4 linked regions of the Homo sapiens genome follow. Changing the gene in region 4 together with the main gene of any one other region gives a genetic interaction. Each region holds a gene or a part of one and is shown on either strand. Other genes may lie near its edges.

Region 1 (4,604 bases), on a different chromosome or scaffold from region 4:
CAGCCTTGTTTCAAACTCCTGGGCTCAAGCGATCCTCCTGCCTCAGTCTCCCAAAATGCTGGGATTACAGGCCTGAGCCTCTGCACCCAGCCTCTTATTTCTTTTAAATACTTTATTTGAATAATTTATTTGCTTTTTTTTTGATCAGTTACTTAGCTAAGGTTTCTTTTCAAAGGATCATATCCAGAGTCCCAAACATTTCTGTACATCTGCTACATGAACCCCCTGCACTGACTAATGAAATGTATTGTTTGGTTGTGACTGTTCAGTCCCATGAAAAGACCCAAATCAGAGATGTGAAGCTCACCGCTGGCTTAAAACCAGGTAAGCATTCCTTTTTGTAAGTTTGATCAGTATTAATCCAACATTAAATAAGCATCAGTGATGTCAACTCTAGGACTTTTGTTTACAAGAGGGTATGGCATAGTGCTCTTCACACAGTATTGATTATTGGGATAATGTTTGAATTCTTTGTTTTGAAGAACCAATATTAACTCTTTTAGGACAGGATGCCAATTTAACTCAGAAGACTCACGTGACTCTTCATGGAACAGAACTGTGTGATGAATCCTACCCGGCTTTACTCACTGACATTCCTGTTGGAGACTTACATCCAGGGGAACAGGTAAACTTGGTCAACTGGGATTGAAGAGGAAATCAATTAGTTTGTAGTTTTAAATATATAGTGAGTTTTTAACAGTTCAGAGCGTTTTAACGCATATTCTAGGACTGAAAAAGTGATTTAACTAATGAACATTTCATACACATTTTACATACGTAAATGTGTAAAATGTCTTAAGCAGTTTTTCTACAAGGGAATTTAGAAAACATGCTTAACATGAATTAGTGGGCTAATAAAATACCCATTGTTTGTAACTTAGTGCAGTTAACTTCTCAGTCAACTTCTGCTTCCAAACTAGATAGAAAAATATTTTGGAAGTTAAAGAACAATAATTTCTAAAAGATGCAGTAGTAATGATCCCACCCTTATACTGTGGCCACAGTGTAATCAGAGTACTCTACTACAGTGGGAGCATTGATGAGTTACATTGTAACATTCTGTAAAAGTGATAAAGAATTTAGCCAGTTGGTATAAATAAACTCTAGAAGGTGGGAACATTATCCTAGAATATATATCAAGAAGAAATGTCTGTAATACTAATTAAATTACAACATTTATTTTGTTACAGCTGGAAAAAATGTTGTATGTTCGCTGTGGAACAGTGGGTTCCAGAATGTTTCTTGTATATGTTTCTTACCTGATAAATACAACCGTTGAAGAAAAAGAAATTGTTTGCAAGTGTCACAAGGTATTTTTTTATAGCTACTTTATAAAGCATCATATGTGGAGTATTCCCATTTTGTGTTATTTTAGTTTACCTATAAAATAAGCATAAAATAAGCAGTTTAGGTGCTTATAGTCTGTTATAAATTTTAATTAAACTTTTTAAAAAATCACTTATATTGAGATTTGTTTAGGCTGGCATTCACTGCTCAAACATTAAACAGAAAATTAGCTTATATGGCTTTTCTTTTTTTTTTTTTTTTTTTTGAGGCGGAGTTTTGCCCTTGTCGCCCAGGCTGGAGTGCAGTGGCACGATCTTGGCTCACTGCGACCTCCACCTCCCGGGTTCAAGCGATTCTCCTGCCTCAGCCTCCCGAGTAGCTGGGATTACAGGCATGCACCACCACACCCAGCTAATTTTTTGTATTTTTAGTAGATACGGGGTTTCTCCATGTTGGTCAGGCTGGTCTTGAACTCCCAACCTCAGGTGATCTGCCCACCTTGGCCTCCCAAAGTGCTGGGATTACAGGCGTGATCCACTGGACCCGGCCTATATGGCTTTTCGTATAGAGGATCAATAGGATTGAGATCTCAAGCAAATCACACATGAGATAAAATCTGTAAGTTGACTTACATATAGAGGGTTCTGGAGAAAAGGAGGTCGCCCTTTGAAAGGCATTTTTCTGTTATTAAAAAATATTGGTAAAAATTGTTTTCGGTAAGTGCACATAAAAGTGAAAATAGGAACGATCACGGTTACAGTTCACAACTCGAAGGCAACTGCTAACTCTTTGTGTTTCTTATTGGTCTCTTTTCTATTTCTAGAGATTTTTAACAGGCCATGTTTCTAAATAGATTCAATTGTGCTGTATATAATGTTTATGTTCTCTTTTGTTAGTAGAACATTATGATATTTGGTATCTTCTTGGTCCTGACAGTAATGTTGTCTTAGTTTTCTCTTAGGAATTGGGTCCTCAGCCCAGCAGAGGAGAAGGCCTATAGCAATTTGGGGATTTGTAGTTTTGTTACTGCACAGAGTCTGGGCTGTGGGCTATTTACTAGTCATTGGGAAAGAAAACCATCTCAAAATTATTAGTATTTCCCAAGCGGGAGAGAAGAAGGCATGTAATGTACTGTTGAAAATTTCTCATAGCCTGGTATAATACATAGAGTCCTATATGGTAGCTTAGGAGATAAGGGTGCCAATCTCAGCACATTATATGTATTATCTCATTTGATTTTTCTAACAAGCCTGTGAGGATTATGAAACTGGGACTTAAAGAGACTGCATGAGTTGAGCATCCCAAATCTGAAAATTCAAAATCCAAAACGTTCCAAAATCTTTTGGAAACTTTTTGAGTGCCAGCATGACACTCAAAGGAAATGCTCCCAGGAGCATTTTGGACTTGGAATGCTCAACAAGTAAGTATAATCCAAATACTCCAAAATCCAAAAAATCTGAGACACTTCTGGCCCCAAGCATTTCAGATAACCTGTATAACTTTCCCAGGGTCACGTCATTAGGTTCAAGGTCACAGAGCTAGTAAATATGTATTGAGCCAGGATTAGAATTCAGCTCTGTCTGGCATTACAGCCTGAGCTTTTAACCAGTATGATCTTTTTTAAAGGTTTCTTACCAAGAGGTTGTGTTATTTGTTTTGAAAGATGAAATAACCCCATGGTTTTTTTTCTTCTTTCTTTTATTTTTTTATTTTGACATGGGGTCTCACTGTGTTGCCCAGCTTGGAGTGTAGTGGCACGATCTTGGTTCACTGCAGCCTCCGACTCCTGGGTTCAAGCAATCCACCCATCTCAGCCTCCCGAGTAACTGGGACTACAGGTGTGCACCACCATACTCAGCAGATTTTTTATATTTTTGGTAGAGACAGGGTTGTGCCATGTTGCTCAGGCTGGTCTTGAACTCCTGAGCTCAAGCAATTTGTCCACCTCAGCCTCCCAAAGCTGGGATTACAGGTGTGAGCCACCATGCCCACCCCCCCATTGTTTTTCTAACAGACTCTTTTAGAAAGGAGATGTAGCATGTTGGTTAAGAGTGTAGGCTCCATGACCTCATCTTAAAGTGGCAATCATAATAGCACTTGTTTCCTTGTGTGATTATGAACATTACATAATACATGTATACGGATGATAGCAGTGTCTGTCACATTACATTATTATTATCTTTCTTATTAGTCATTTTGAGTTGAGGTGTAGTAGGAACTTAGACAAAAGGAAGACCCTAGCTTTGTGGAACGTCTGATTCCTCCTCTGCAAAATGGTGATGATGCCTGCCCTGCCCACTTCATTAGATCCAGAGATAAATAATGTATAAGAAAACACTTTAGCCAGGTGCTGTGGTTCACTCCTGTAGTACCAGCACTTTGGGGTTCTGAGGCAAGAGGATCACTTGAGGCTAGGAGTTCAAGACTAGCCTGAGCAACATAGCAAGACCCCATCTCTAAAACCATAAAATACGGTAGCCGGGCGTGGTAGTGTGCTCCTGTAGTCCCAGCTGCTCAGGAGGATCACTTGAGCCCAGGTGTTCGAGGCTGCAGTGATCTGTGATGGTGCCACTGTCCTCCATCCTGGTTGCCAGAGTGAGACCCTGTCTCCCAAAGGAAAAAAAAAAAATTAGTACTCAGTTCTCTCGACACAGATTTTTACAAATGTTATCTAAAAGGCCTTTACTTCTTAGTATGTATAATTTGGGATTATTTATTGATCAGTGATAGGTTGTGTTTTTTAAAACTTTATATAAAAAGATTTAGAAAATCCATGAATGTGCCCTTTACATTTTCTTGCAGGATGAAACTGTAACAATTGAAACAGTCTTTCCATTTGATGTTGCGGTTAAATTTGTTTCTACCAAGGTATGTTTCTTTGAGGCATACTAGAAATCATTTAGGTTATAAAAATGGACTGAAATGATAAAATGGATTAAGGTAATTCCTGACAGACCTTTTATCTTCATTTGTGACAGTTTGAGCACCTGGAAAGGGTTTATGCTGACATCCCCTTTCTGTTGATGACGGACCTCTTAAGTGCCTCACCCTGGGCCCTCACTATTGTTTCCAGTGAGCTCCAGCTTGCTCCATCCATGACCACAGTGGACCAGCTCGAGTCTCAAGTGGACAATGGTGAGTCTGGTTCATTCCCACTTAAAGACCAGGAGAATTGTGCGCGCGTGTGTGTGTGTGTGTATAAGCTGGCAATGGAAGAGTTAATTAGCTTTTTGCTAAGTGAGGGAACTTGAGACCTGCACTCGTGAAAGCAAATGCATATGGAATTAAGGTGGAATTAGTGTCATTTATAATACCAT
Region 2 (4,604 bases), on a different chromosome or scaffold from region 4:
TGAGTAGTTTTACAGAAAACTTTTCAGCATCCCATTCAATTTTCTGTCTTTCCTTTTAATTTTCTTCTAGTTCATCATTCTTGTTGTTGATAGCATTGACAGGGAACGACTAGCTATTACAAAAGAAGAATTATACAGAATGTTGGCTCATGAGGTAAATTTTTAAAGTAAATCTTTAAAAAACAGTGTAGTAAAGTATCTGTACGTTGCCTTTGCTTTTTTGCAAAGATTAATGTGATATGATGTTGGCTATTTTATGATTAACACAACTTTATGTACTAAACTGATGAAAGTCTTGAGGTAAAAAAAAATGTTCATTACTTTTTCAAACTTAAAAAACCCTAACACATTAATTTGTAGATTACTACTGTTATTGTAAAAATTTTTCAAAGCTAAAGTTACTTAAGCATGCCTTTAAAAGTCTGATAAATTGAGATAAGCAAAAGGAAAACTTAAGGGTCTTTTCCCCAAAAGTTTCAATAACTGAAAGGTTTTTTTTTTGTTTTTTGTTTTTGTTTTTGTTTTTTTTGAGACGGAGTCTTGCTCTGTTGCCCAGGCTGGAGTACCGTGGCGCGATCTTGGCTCACTGCAACCTCCGCCTCCTGGGTTCAAGCAGTTCTCTGCCTCAGCCTCCCGAGTAGCTGGGATTACAGGAACCCGCCACCACGCCTGGTTAATTTTTGTATTTTTAGTAGAGACAGGATTTCACCATCTTCGCCAGCCTGGCCTTGAATTCCTGATGTCGTTATCCGCCTGCCTCAGCCTCCCAAAGTGCTGGGATTACAGGTGTGAGCCACTGTGCCTGGCCTGTATTCCATGTTTTTCAAACTTATACTATATAATATATATCTTTCTGAATCTTGCTCTTTTTGTACAACATTGTGACTTATCCATGATAATATATTCTGATTATCCATCTTAATATGTACTGCTTTCGTTCATTCCTTTTAACAACTGTATAGTTTTCCACAGTATGAGTATATCACAATCTATTCTTCTAATGTTTTCATAGTATAAACAATGCTGAAATGAATATTAACCAATGACCTTATGTTATACAAAGACTAGTAAGTAATAAGTATTGCCCAGCTCCCACCACCAGTACTCTTAAGTTTTGGATAAACTCTAGTATTTGGCAACATACTACCATATTTGCCTATTAGAATATTAATTATGTATTTTTGAGTCAGTATTTAAAATTCAGGTGTATTTTTTTTTTTCAGTTTGACCAGTTCGACTCAAAAATAAAAAATAATTATTTAATATTAATCTGTTGGAATGAATAATGAAATTACGGGTATTTGAGATTATTTTTATGTTAAATACTAGTGCCCGATTATGTTAAAGTAGAAGCACTTCATTATAACTGTTCAGCTGGGTAAATTTAAATTGTGGTATTTCACATATTAGAAATATTTTGTCTTGATTGCAGGATTTACGGAAGGCTGCAGTCCTTATCTTTGCAAATAAACAGGATATGAAAGGGTGTATGACAGCAGCTGAAATCTCGAAATACCTCACCCTTAGTTCAATTAAGGATCATCCATGGCACATTCAATCCTGCTGTGCTCTCACAGGAGAAGGGTAAGTTCATCCGTCTGAGGGGAGGTATGACTTCTTTCAAATTTCTTCCAACTTTTTAGGCCAACTTGTTTTCTTCATGGGTCCTGTTCCTTTTCTGTTTGTTTGTTCTTAATTAAAGGTGACTTTTATAATGTGTCTCAGGCTTACAACCTAGAAATAATTCTAGTAAAATCACTGGCAACTTAAAAACTTTTAATGTAAATATAATGTTTTACCAAAAAGCAATAAACTATTGAATTGAGTTTTCATAATCCAAATTTTTTTCTTTGTTGCCTTTATCATATACTGAGAAAAAAACTGTAATGTCACCTTTCTTTTAAAAAGGAAGCTTGAAAGAAATTTCACATTTTCTGCAAGGACTTAAACCTGAGCTCTCAGCTTTCTGCAAGAGTATGTCTTCTTTATTATTAGGAGGTCTTTTGGGAGGCATATTTCCAGACAATAAACAGTTGAGACAAATGCCACATGGTCTATTCTTCCATCTCTAACAATTTGAATGTGGGTATTAGGCCAAGAAGAACCGAATGTTATTTAAGTATTATCCTGTTTATATCAGAGAACTTATCCTCAAATCAACCTCACCTTCTTAGTTTTTCTCTTAGTATTTATCAGAAATAGCTTGCAGTAATAGCTGTGTGTAGGCCTTTTTGACTCATACTTTTAAGACTGAGTCTAAGTATTCCATTCTTTAGAATTGAGGAGGATAAGGTGAAGTTGCTATTGACTTTCTCCAGTCGTTAAGTTTCAGTTAATTTTAAAAGGCGGGGAGTATTTGCACTCTTCATGGCAAAACTGGCAAAGTTGTATCTTCAAGATGAGACTGAAGCAATTTCCCACAAACTGATTAAGAATATTTAAGAGAACATTCCATTTAAAAATTTCACTTATTATAGTGTGACTTGAATGTTGACACTGATGTATATAAATAATGATTGTGCTACCAGCCTTTGGTTAAGACCTAAAAATAATAAGTACGCTTTCAGTTTTTAAGTATAAGGTTTTTAATTAAAAATACTTCTATCTTTTGTTTAGGTTATGCCAAGGTCTAGAGTGGATGACCTCCCGGATTGGTGTGAGATAACTTTTTTGCTTGAAAGAGACTGCTCTATTTATTCTGTGACATGAACATTTTTTCCTAGTACCTTTGGCTGCTAAGGCAGCAGCATGTTTAATTTATAACAACACAAACCTCTGAGAGCAACACTTGAATCAAGTGCAGCTGAACTGGAACATAAAAGATTTTTTCTTAACTTTTTTTTTTTAACACACTAATCTTCAGTTGGATGAATGTAATGTATAACTATGTTTTCAGCAACAATTCTTCTGTTTATTCTAATTAATCAGTGACTGCCTTGTAAGAAATGTTTGTCATATGCGTGATGTCTTCTGAAATATTCTTATAACCTTAATGACCAATTGCTTTCAATTCTTGACCAGCACTCCCTCCCAACCAGAGAATTACTGGTTTGATAGAGTAGTCTTGGAAACCATCAGGTACTGCCTGCAGACTTCTCCAGCACTAAATATATTTGTTCCCTCTATAAACCATTCATCTTTCGGACAGAACTTACTGTAAAGAAAGAAATCTGCCTAGAGGATATATGTAAGGAAGATTCCACATCATGAGTACTTGCCTTTTAACTTTCCCCCACATTACTGTTGAGTCATGGAATAATGTTTAAGTTGTTATTTGCATGGAAATTAAGTAGGCTGTTTATTTATCTAAAGGAATCAAGTCCACTCTTCTGCCTGCAACATTTGTTCAAAAACTAACCAAGGTAAAATATTTATTTGAAAGCCCAACTTTGATGTTAAATATTCTTGAATAAATCTGTTATTTTAAGAATATCACATTATTCAATGCATATAAAACTATCAGAAGTTAGTAAATCATACCAGCACTAAAAATAAGACAATTGGAATATATTTTAGCATCAGTTTACAAACAACTTTATTATCAACAGAAATTTTAGCTCTTTTCTTTGCAAGATATATCACAGCTGCTTTGGGCAGTAGCTGAAGCCGAAGTATGAACAGTCCATTTTGTTTCTTAAAATTTGAAGTCGTGTCTGTCATAGCATTTTTACTACCAGCAGTATGTTACTTAAAAAACTACATGGCTTTCCTTGAATTTATTTGACGGTATTATGTAATAGACTTGAAACAATTGCCATCTTTGTAGTTATGCCTTGGGTTCTAAAATGTTATAGGAAACTGCTGAATTGAATCCTAGCTTTTAGAATATTAATAGGAGACTCAAAGTTAATATTCTTAACAACTTAAAATTAAAAAAAGTCATAATCTATCAAAAGTTTATTTATTGGATGGCATTAAAACATTTTTGAGGCAGTTGTCTAATATGAACAATAATCTAAACAATATATTCCTTAAATTAAGAGGAAAGACAAGTGTCGTATTTCGATCCTGTTTATTCAAATGTGTGATTTTGCTGAAATGAAAGGGATAAAATGAATACTTAGAGAATAATACTTCATTTTTGCAGTACTTTTTAATTTTGATAAAAAAGATACAAAGTTCATAATATCAAAATATGTGTTCAAAATTGGTATTTTAATTTTAATATTTTTGTAAGTTGATTTAAATTTTGCTCTTTTTTCAGGTGTGCTTGGTTTATTATATTTAGTCAAGTTAATTTAGTCGAATGTGGTAACATTTTTCTGATTTATCTTTAGTTGGAGCACACCCTTGAACTGAACAGTGGCCAAAGGAAAGCTTTCTGGGCTTTGGAAAGTAGTTGTTTAACTTTGTTTTAAGCCGTTTTCTTAGTGATTCTGTATCAAGTAGAGGATAAGTGTAGTTTAACTTAGTTTTTAATATAACCCATAATCAAGAACATGAGCGAAAAGCAGACATAAATCGATATGGATGGTTTGTGGTGTGTGTGGGATGTGGGGGAATTAAGAAAATGCCATTTACCTAAGCACAGTTTGCCTGAATTTCTGCTTGGTTGTGTTGTTTACCGTAAGTACTGAGGGTAGTTTCCCTAAGTCTGTCCTGAG
Region 3 (5,324 bases), on a different chromosome or scaffold from region 4:
ACCTGTTTCCGTACCCCTGTAAAATAAGGGGAATAATATCTACCTTGTAGGGTTGTTGTAAAGAGTAAATCAACTAAGTGAATATTAAATCAAACAACCTGTGTGAACCTTGCACAAGTGTTAACCACTATTATTTTACTTGTAGAGACAAAGTGAGTTAATTTCCTGTCTCCCAACACTACATGAAAGCTCCATAAAGGCAGTGGAATTTGTCTGTTTTGTTCCCTTATCCCACCATGTAGAACACTTCCTGGACTAAATAGGTGTTAAAATATTTGTTTATTGAGAACAAGTAAACCACTGATCACAAGCTCTTCTATAAAAAAAAGTTACTAATGGCAACTTTTCGAAGTTCTAAAGACAACTTAGAGATTAGCAACTGAAAAAGTTAATGGGGGGAGGAGGAGGGAGGGAAAAATGATGTCAATCTCTTCTTTAAGAGATTCCTTCAGGGTTTTAACTTGCCTGGCTCTGGCATATACCAGTTGCATGGCCTGGGGAAAAAAAATCATTCCACTTAAGCCTCAGTTTTCCCTTTTCAGGGGAAATAACTACTTCAAAAGATTGTTAAAACATAAAATAAAATAAAATAAAATGATTTAAATGACAGCATCTAGGATAAAGTTTGTACTCTACTGAATCTCAGTATCAACTAAATGTGACCTCTGGTTTTTCTAGTTCGAGCGGTATACAAATAGCTTTCACTGTGCACTCAATCTGAGCTTTAACTGAAAAAGCTGTTCTCGAGGGGTTTCAGAAACAGGAGATACTGCATAGTTTAAGTTTCATCAGATGGCAAATTCTGTAATCTCCCGAAACATACTTTCCAAGAGTTTCTATGAAAAGAAAGTAAGATTGCATTCTGAATCCACTGAAGGTAAAACAAGAGCATCCAACACATATCTAACTTATATATGTCCTATACAGAAAAAAAAAAAAACAACCCTGCTGGGCACCATGGCTCAGGCCTGTAATCCCAGCACTTTGGGAGCCCAAGGCGGGTGGATCACGAAGTCAAGAGATGGTGACCATTCTGGCCAACGTGGTGAAACCCCATCTCTACAAAAAATACAAAAATTAGCTGGGTGTGGTGGCACGCACCTGTAGTCCAGCCACTCGGGAGGCTGAGGCAGGAGAATCGCTTGAACCCAGGAGGCACAGGTTGCAGTGGGCCAAGATCACACCACTGCACTCCAGCCTGGTGACAGAGCAAGACTCCATCTCAAAAAAACAAAAACAAAAACAAAACCCAACAAATATCTGGCATTAGATTAAATGGTGGATATTCGGAAAAGTGACCCTATTGATAAGACAGCCACACTGTTTAGCAGAAAATAAATAATTTATTCACACTTTCACAATATTCATATCTAATTTTCTAGAACTTAACTTCATTAATTTCTCTATTAATTTCCGCCAAACTGCCATAAATGTCCCGTCAAAAATTACCACAAAATACAGGTTATAAAAACACTACTATTAGCAATTTGTAGTGATACCAGAGCACACACCCTTATTATTTACTACTCCAAGGAGCTGTTGGCAAAGTTCTCATTTATTCTTAACTTACAGAAACAAATAATTTTATCATTGACTCAAAATAGAAAGTGGTGATAACTCTTTTTCTGGCAGCACTAGAGCTCAATTCACAGTCTTGCTAAACCTCACAGCAGATGAAACACTAGCTTTGCTAAAAATAATACAAAATGATGGATGTTAAAACTAGAATAGATCTTATCTACTATAAGTACCATCAGTCTTACAGCAATGTACGTTTTAATATTTGCAATGTAGAAATAAAGTTTACAAGATTTGGAAGCTCCACAGATCCCTGGTGTTCTAGGTGAGAAAACCTAGACCAGAAAACCTGAGAGTTCAAGTGACTGCTTCCCACTCTCCTGCTCCCAACACTAACAGCCAGTCCAGTCAGAGACAGTGCTGATTAGAACTGATTTTCTCTACTTTATGAAAAATCCTCTTATCAGAAAAATTGATACTGCCCTTTCTTTCGGTATCACGTGACCTACACATCTGTGTGTGTGTGTGTGTGCGTAAAAGATACATTAGGGATCACAAGTTCTAGTTCTGCTTGCTTCCCCTAAGCTTCTTAAAAGAGCAGCTAGATCATGAAGGAGGAGGTGGTAGTAGTAGGTGTACATAATAGATGCCACCATTCACGTAAGTCTTTATTGGAAAACTGGGACGTGACACCATCAGCTTACACAACAGAAAAACACAAACTAAGTTCCTGACAGCGGAATGATGAACCACCCAACTTGAGTTAAAAAGAAACAAAAGTACACCACTGTATCTTAATAAGTATCCAGTCTTTGGGTTAAAATTGTATTCTCTTTCCCCAGTTTTAGTCATTTTGTAACAAATTTTAACAAGCCTGATAGGTATTTCATGGCCATGTCTGAAGTTGGCTGAACTTAAGCATCCCTATATAACACACTTTACACTTAGTAACTTGCTAGTTACCTATGGTTAACAAATGTTTCATATGGTATGTTTTTAAAACTTTCAGTGAAACACTTTAACATTTTTAACCCAGCAAAACAAACAAAAACTGTGTCTAATAACCCACACGAGTAGAAAAATGACCTTAAGCTTAACCTTAAACACAGATATAATAAGTAAAACAAATGGAGAGAAGTCCATCTCTATTCAGGAGGCAGAAGAACCCCCCCTGCCCCCAACACACACAAAGACGGGTGGCAGTGGAGGGCAGGCTCATAAACCAGAGGTGTAATGGACAAGTCGAGCGATTCCTCCCGTTTTCCGCATTCTGCAACCCTCGGTCGCTCAGTGGTGCGGTTAGGGCAGCAATCTATAACCTTCATTCCAGAAGACCCCAGCACTTCTATGTGGTGTCCAAACACAACTGGTGAGCAAAGAAAGGGCTGAAAGACAGGCCAGGCCGTGCTACTCAGGGACGTCGGACCTAGGGCAAGAAACCTTTACCACTCTCATTCGAAATCGGAGCAATGGGTCTATTACGGAAAAGACTTCTTAGGAAGGTCTCCTAAGACAAAGGGCTGCGAGTCAGGAACCATCCCCAAGCTCGGGAGCCGGGACCGAACCGTCCCGGGCCCGTATCCGCGCAGCCTGCACCCCGCGCTGAGCTGGCGCCCGACCGAGCCGCCCACATTCCGAAGTATTCGGAGACCCCCACCTAGCCGGCCCGAGCTGACCCTCTCCCCAACCCGTACGCCCGCGGACCGAGCTCCTCACCCTGGTGATTGAACAGTCTCCATATTCTAGTGAAGAGAATTCCCATTCTCGGGCAGCGGACCCCCCCCCTCCAGACACCCGGGCCGCCTGGCTTCCCCCGGCTCAGGCTGAGGGGGAGGAGAGAGACGCGCTGGAGCCTCCGCCTCTGCTGCTGCTCCCGCGCTGGTCGCGGGCCCGCTTCCAGGGAACCGGAGGGAGGCCGAAGCCCAGGCCGCCCTGCCGCGCGCAAGGCCCCGCCGCTGCCGCCGCGGCACTCGCCTGGCTCGCGGACATCGCCGCCGCGTTGTCTGCGACGAGCCTCGCGGGCCACCGTCCTCCCCCAGCTCCTCTCGGGCGGCTGCGGTGGCGACGACCACGCGGGCGGGGGAAGTGAAGGGGCGGGCCTGGAGGGACGTGAGTGCGCAGGCGCGCGGCCAGAGGGGCGGAGCGTAGGAAAGGGCGCCCGCCCTGTCCTCGCTTATTTGCATAACCAAGACTGCGGAAGGCGCAGGACTTTACCCTGGGACTGAGGCTGTGAAGACCGCAAGTTGGGGCAGATGGCTTCCGACTGCTTGCTGTTGCGTCCCCGAGTATTTATATTTCCCTCGAATCTTCTCCACTGCGCCATAATGTAAACATATAATTGAGTACCCCATGTCCATCCCCAACCCTTCACATACACTACACTTAAAGTTCCACGTCATGACTCTTTAAGACATTGTGTCCCCTGTGGGTCTTTGAGGGAAAAGTCTGCTGCCCTCTGACACTCAGCTGAAGTCAGTGGCCTTACCTAGATAGTCACCTTAAAGCCATTTTTGCACTTCAGGGCTCTTTTCTCTCCAATCTCTTAACTCTCACGTCAGTATTGCCCAAAACAACGATTTTGATCAAGTCACTACCCTGTTTAAAAACCTTTAGTGGCCACCAAAGCTCCATCCCTTTCTGTTCTCGTTAACCTTAGTAAAAAGGAAAATAAAGAAAAATTGGGAGACTTGTAGGAGCCATTTGAACTGCTTTGCACTCCCATCCCCAACAGCTGAATGAAATTAAGCAAAATCAGCAATAAACCGCACCTTCCCAACTCACTTCTCCTAACTACCCAGTATTTTACCTCAAAATATAGAAAAGTAATTTCGTTGACTTCTTTTGGGGCTTTATGGTTAAAAAGCCAAAGTTTAGAGGAGCCATACATGAAGGGAAGGAAAATCATAGTAATCCATATTAATTTATGTATTATCATGTCTGGATTTACTTAATATTCTGTACACTGTTTAGAAGAACAATGTAGTTTGTATAACCAATTTGCATTAACTCTGTAATATTTCCATTCTCGCACACCGTAGGTAATGCTTTGGTAGCTCTAAGACTTTTTCAGACTCCCACACAGATGTCAACTTATGAAATGGATGTCATATACACATTATGTGATGGCGGAGCTTCATATTTTACAATCTACCCAAGGAAATGGTCTCCCAGGTTATTTTCCGAGTGAAGAAAGAAGAGAGAGAGAGAGACAGAGACAGAGAGTTTAAAGACCAATTTATCTATGATTACAGAGAAATGCAAAATGTCATTGGAGAGACTTCTGACTTCAGGCATGAGAGAGTAGGATGGTTTGAATATATCCTCCTACCATTAGCAAATAGAAAACTGCACAAAGTACAGGCAACGACATTTCAGATATTGAAAAACACATCACAGTACTGTGATTCTTTGCAAAAGAGAAAGGAACAGGTGGAGTCTTACCATTTCCTGGACTTTATCCCTAAAAGCAATTCCCAGTCAACTACGGAGGAAGTGGGAACCCAAATGAGAATCTGGAAACCTCTTAGAACTGAAGACGCATATCAGCATTCCCAGAGATCAAGGTGACTAGAATTTGTGAAGCAGAGTAACTGGAAGGAGGGAGCTACACAGAGAAAAGCTCTGGAAACCTGTTAAGGGGCCATTGAGTCTTTGGCTGCATATCAATTTGTGCTCGTGCAGTATGAACCCCCAAGAGGCTGGTCAGTCACAATTCCTGAGGAAAAATAAGTACCAGGAAACTGTAATGCAAATGATTCCCAGAGATTACAACGGGTCAGGAATCATTTGAGTTCCCTTCAGCCAGA
Region 4 (5,013 bases):
TACTCGGGAGGCTGAGGCAGGAGAATGGCGTGAACCCGGGAGGCAGAGCTTGCAGTGAGCCAAGATCACGCCACTGCACTCCAGCCTGGGCGACAGAGAGAGACTCCGTCTCAAAAAAATAAATAAATAATAAATAAATAAAATAAATAAATGTGGCCAGGTGTGGTGGCTCACGCCTGTAATCCTCGCACTTTGGGAGGCTGAGGTGGGCGGATTACCTGAGGTCGGGAGTTCAAGACCAGCCTGGCCAATATGGTGAAACCCCATCTCTACTAAAAATACAAAAAGTTAGCTGGGTGCAGTGGCACGTGCCTGTAATCCCATAATCCCAGCTACTCTGGAGGCTGAGGCAGGAAAATTGCTTGAACCAGGGAGGCAGAGGTTGCAGTGAGCTGAGATTGTGCCACTGCTTTCCAGCCTGGGTGACAGAGCAAGACCCCATCTCAAAAAAAAAAAAAAAAAAGAGAAAAAAGAATGAAAAAAAAAACTACTAATGAGTGTTATAGCTTACTTAATTTGTCTAGCAGGCTTTCTGGTTTTTGCTGGAAAGCCGAAAAACAAAAAACAACAAAAAACTACTAATAATTTTAAAAGTCACATTTTCCATATGGTTTTCAGGTTTCAAGTATTATTTCAAACATCTAAATAAGCAAAAGTTTCACATTTCTACATTTTAAGCACTTCTATAAGAATACTACCTGACTTTATGAAGCTATTTTGAAGTGAAGGATATCCAGAAGAAACATATTGATGATTTGTGGTTAAACTTGTATTTCCAGATACAGTTGGTTGGGATGATGCACGAGGACAATGGTTTGTTTGTGAGGCTGTGGATGGATAGTTATATTGCCAATTCAAAGGTGGTGGCAGGTTGGCTTCAGGAAGAAAGCTACTAGAAGGCATTGGTGTAGTAGCTGGGTTCTGAGAAGCAGGTAATGGCATTCGGGGAGCAGGACCACTATGAAGCGAAGGTGTCACTGGATTAGAGGCCACAGGTGGTCTATTAAGAGTCTGCCCAGATCCCTGAGAACCACCATAGTTAGACTGTCCAGAGACTGGATTCAAAGTCTTTGCTGGTATTGGATGAGGGTAGGATCCTGGAAGCTGGAAATTGTATCCTTGGCTCACTGACTCTTGTGAAGACAGCAATGCATTTTGGACAGGACCTTCCAATAAAAGGAGGAAAAATTAGTCTTACCAACGAATATAGCAATACTTTAAGAAATAAAGTAAAACATATATTCTTACAGTCAGCAATAAAAACACATAACTCAATTAAAAAATAAGCAAAGGACTTAAATAGACATTCAAACATACTTCCAAAGAAGATAGCTAATAAGCACATGCCAAAACATTCAACATCATCAGTCATTAGAGAAATACAAACATAATTAGTCATAACAGAAATGTAAATCAAAACCACAATGAAGGCCAGCGCAGTGGCTCACATCTGTAATCCCAGCACTTTGGGAGGCCAAGGCAGGTGGATAGCTTGAGCCCAGGAGTTCAAGACCAGCCTGGGCAACATGGTGAAACCCCATGCCTATAAAAAAAAACAAAAAGTAGCCAGCCTTGATGGTATGCGCCTGTAGTCTTAGCTACTTGGGGGGCTGAGGCAGGAGGATTACTTGAACCCAGGAGGTCAAGGCTGCAGTGAGCCAAGGTCACACCATTGCACTCCAGCCTGGGTGACAAAAAAAAAAAAAAAAGATGGACTAAACAGTAGCAAGTAACAGAGGGAATACAGAGATGTCTCAATAAATGAAAACATTTGTAAAAAAATAATATATAAGCATATGTTGGGTCACTTGGATAAAAATAGGCCATCTCACAGCCCAATGTTGCCACAAGATGTCCTGGCCTAGTTTCATATTTGTATTACAATTTTATTTACTTACTTATGGATTGATTGATTGATTGAGACAGCACTTTACTCTGTCATCCAAGCTGGAGTACAGTGGCACAATCATGGCTCACTGTAGCTCTGACCTCCTGGGCTCAAGCGATCCTCCCATCTAAGCCTCCTGAGAAGCTGGGACTACAGGCATGCACCACCACGCCGGCCTAATTTTTTTTTTTTTTTTTTGTAGAGACAGAGACTCACTATGTTGCCCAGGCTGGTCTCAAATTCCTGAGCTCAAGTAATCCTCCTGCCTCAGCCTCTATAAGCGCTAGGATTACAGGCGTGAGCAAACAGGTTGTATTTACAATCTTATCACAAGCTAATACGCTAAAGAGGTGCCTTCAAGCCAGGTACAGCCAAGTGAAAGCCAAATACCATCAAAATGTACAAAATAAGCAAAAATTTGACAGGCCAATAAAGATGAAAACATGCTGGGCATGGTGCCTCACACATATAATCCCAACACTTTGGGAGGCCAAGGCGGGCAGATAGCTTGAGCTCAGGAGTTCGAGACCAGCCTGGACATAATAGTAAGACCTCGTCTCTATAAAAAATATAAGAATTAGTTGGGTGTGGTGGCGCCTGCCTGTAAGTCCCAGCTACTTGGGGCTGAGGCAGGAGGATCACTGAGCACAGGAGGTTAAGGCTGCAGGGAGCTGCGTTCACGCCACTGCACTCCAGCCTCTGTGACAAAGTGAGACCCTGTATCCTGTCTCAAAAAAAAAAAAAAAAAAAAGAATATGAGGTCATAAGGCCAACTGGCAGGAAGACAGATACAAAAGAACTTGTTTTGTGGTAGTCACCATCATAGACCTATTGTGAGTAACTATTACATGAAAATTTTTTTTTCTGACATCCCTCCCCACTATGTGAAAATCATATATGGATCAATTACAAGTAGTTCACAAAAAGTGTAGTAATAAATATATAATGACACCTTCACTAAATGGATAATTTTTTTAAATTCTGAAGTCATTACTAAGTAGCCCATCAAAATAATGGGTCTGTGAGGCCAGGCGCGGTGGCTCACGCCTATAATCCCAGCACTTTGGGAGGCCAAGGCGGGCGGATCACGAGGTCAGGAGATCAAGACCATCCTGGCTAACATGGTGAAACCCCATCTCTACTAAAAATACAAAAAAATTAGTGGAGCGTGGTGGCGGGTGCCTGTAGTCCCAGCTACTCGGGAGGCTGAGGCAGGAGAATGGCGTGAACCCAGGAGGCAGAGCTTGCAGTGAGCCAACATCGCGCCACTGCACTCCAGCCTGGGTGACAGAGCAAGATTCCATCTCAATAAATAAATAAATAAATAAATAAATAAATAAATAAATAAAAATAAATGGGTCAGTGATTGTGAAGGGGTCCAGAATACGCTACTATGGCATAAAAATTATTTTAAGCAGAAGGCATTTGAGTTCCTAAAATCTCTTATCTGCCTAAAACAGAGCCTTCCAAAAGAACTCAATTGTCATAATCTACTTCCCAGGGGCAACCAGGAAAGATGTCAATCTGACTCATGACCTGAGATGAGAAATTTCCACACCACACCTAAACAGATATCATCACAAAACTATCATATCTATTCTAAAAGCCCATTTATCCTTCCTATAAGTCGTCTGTTTTCCAGTAAATGTCCTCTCCCCCACCCCATTCTTCCCCTATTAAAATCGTGTAGAGGTTGGGCATGGTGGCTCATGCCTGTAATCCCATCACACTGGGAGGCCAAAGCAGAACTACTTGAGCTCAGGAGTAGGAGACCAGCCTGGGCAACACAGCGAGACTCCATTTCCACACAAAAAAATTAAAAATTAAAAAATTAGCCAGGAGTTGTGGCACATGCCTGTAGATCTAGCTTCTCAGGAGGCTGAGGCAAGAGGACTGCTTGAGCCCAGGAGTTTGACTTCAGTGAGCTATAATTAGGCATTCCACCCTGGGCTACAGAGTGAGAACGTGTCTCAAAAACAAAAAGGAAAAAGTGAGCATGATAGTCACCCAAGTAATGTTCCAACATATTCAAAATTAAAACAATCAAATCAACTGTGGTTTCAAACAAAATGTAGCATATTGTTTAATGTTTTAAAATTGAATTATATTGCTTTTGATTTTTTTTTGAGACAGAGTCTCGCTCTGTTGCCCAAGCTAAAGTGCAGTGGTGCGATCTCGGCTCACTGCAACCTCCGCCTCCTGGGTTCAGGCGATTCTCCTGCCTCATTCAGCCTCTCGAGTAGCTAGGATTACAGGTGTGCACCACCACGCTGGCTAATTTTGTATTTTTAGTAGAGACGGGATTTCACCATGTTGGCCAGGCTGTTCTTGAACTTCTGACCTCAAGTGATCTGGCCACCTCAGCCTCCCAAAGTGCTGGGATTACAGGCGTGAGCCACCATGCCCAGCCATATGTTGATATTTTTAATGTTTGGTTTTACAATAGTACAATAGCTATAACCCTATGAAGTTTACATCTAGTTTTGTGTTTGCATATACACATTTAATAAAAATAATTTTTGCCAGGCATGTTGGCTTGATCTTGTAATCCGAGCACTTTGAAAAGCCAAGGTGGGAGCACGGCTTGACCTCAGGAGTTCAAGAATAACCTGGGTAATATAGTGAGACCTCGTCTCTACAAAAAAATAAATAATTAGCCAGTTGTGGTGGCACGTGCCTATATTCCCAGCTACTTGGGAGGCTGAGGCGGGAGGATCACTTGAACCCAAGAGATCAAGCCTGCAGTGGGCTGTGATCATGCCCCTGCACTCTAGCCTGGGCAACAGAGTGAGAACCTGTGTCAGAAGTAAAATAAATAAATAAATAATTTAACATTGGGACAGCAGAGAAATATTTAGTATCTATACATTACTCAAATTTTTAAAAACTGATTTGAGGAAACAGCATTCATGGGATTTTATGTGGAATTGAATATGGGTGATGAAGAGAGGAAAAAATCTAGGATGACTCCTAGGTTTCTGACCTGAGCAACCTGGTGGATGGCCGTGTTTATTCATTTGAACAGAAAGAGAAAAGAATAGAAATGTAGGCCAGGCACGGTGGCTCATGCCTGCAATCCCAGCACTTTAGAAAGTCAAGGTGGGAGGATCACTTGAGGCCAGGAG

What was found.
Region 1: changes in SEC24A (region 4) and TRAPPC11 together harm fitness less than expected from each alone (positive genetic interaction), as found in Homo sapiens cells (one large-scale study listed by BioGRID).
Region 2: changes in SEC24A (region 4) and ARL5B together harm fitness more than expected from each alone (negative genetic interaction), as found in Homo sapiens cells (one large-scale study listed by BioGRID).
Region 3: changes in SEC24A (region 4) and ARL5A together harm fitness more than expected from each alone (negative genetic interaction), as found in Homo sapiens cells (one large-scale study listed by BioGRID).

What each region holds. Positions count from the first base shown.
Region 1 is NC_000004.12:183,693,414-183,698,017, forward strand, and holds part of TRAPPC11 (trafficking protein particle complex subunit 11), read left to right. Parts: intron 1-175; coding exon 176-324; intron 325-503; coding exon 504-625; intron 626-1,190; coding exon 1,191-1,310; intron 1,311-4,089; coding exon 4,090-4,155; intron 4,156-4,265; coding exon 4,266-4,422; intron 4,423-4,604. UniProt on the Homo sapiens protein: Involved in endoplasmic reticulum to Golgi apparatus trafficking at a very early stage.
Region 2 is NC_000010.11:18,672,552-18,677,155, forward strand, and holds part of ARL5B (ADP-ribosylation factor-like protein 5B), read left to right. Parts: intron 1-70; coding exon 71-154; intron 155-1,432; coding exon 1,433-1,584; intron 1,585-2,616; coding exon 2,617-2,665; 3' UTR 2,666-4,604.
Region 3 is NC_000002.12:151,824,897-151,830,220, forward strand, and holds the start of ARL5A (ADP-ribosylation factor-like protein 5A), read right to left. Parts: upstream 3,526-5,324; 5' UTR 3,281-3,525; coding exon 3,235-3,280; intron 1-3,234. UniProt on the Homo sapiens protein: Lacks ADP-ribosylation enhancing activity.
Region 4 is NC_000005.10:134,657,272-134,662,284, reverse strand, and holds part of SEC24A (protein transport protein Sec24A), read right to left. Parts: intron 1,167-5,013; coding exon 699-1,166; intron 556-698; exon of another isoform or gene 496-555; intron 1-495. UniProt on the Homo sapiens protein: Component of the coat protein complex II (COPII) which promotes the formation of transport vesicles from the endoplasmic reticulum (ER).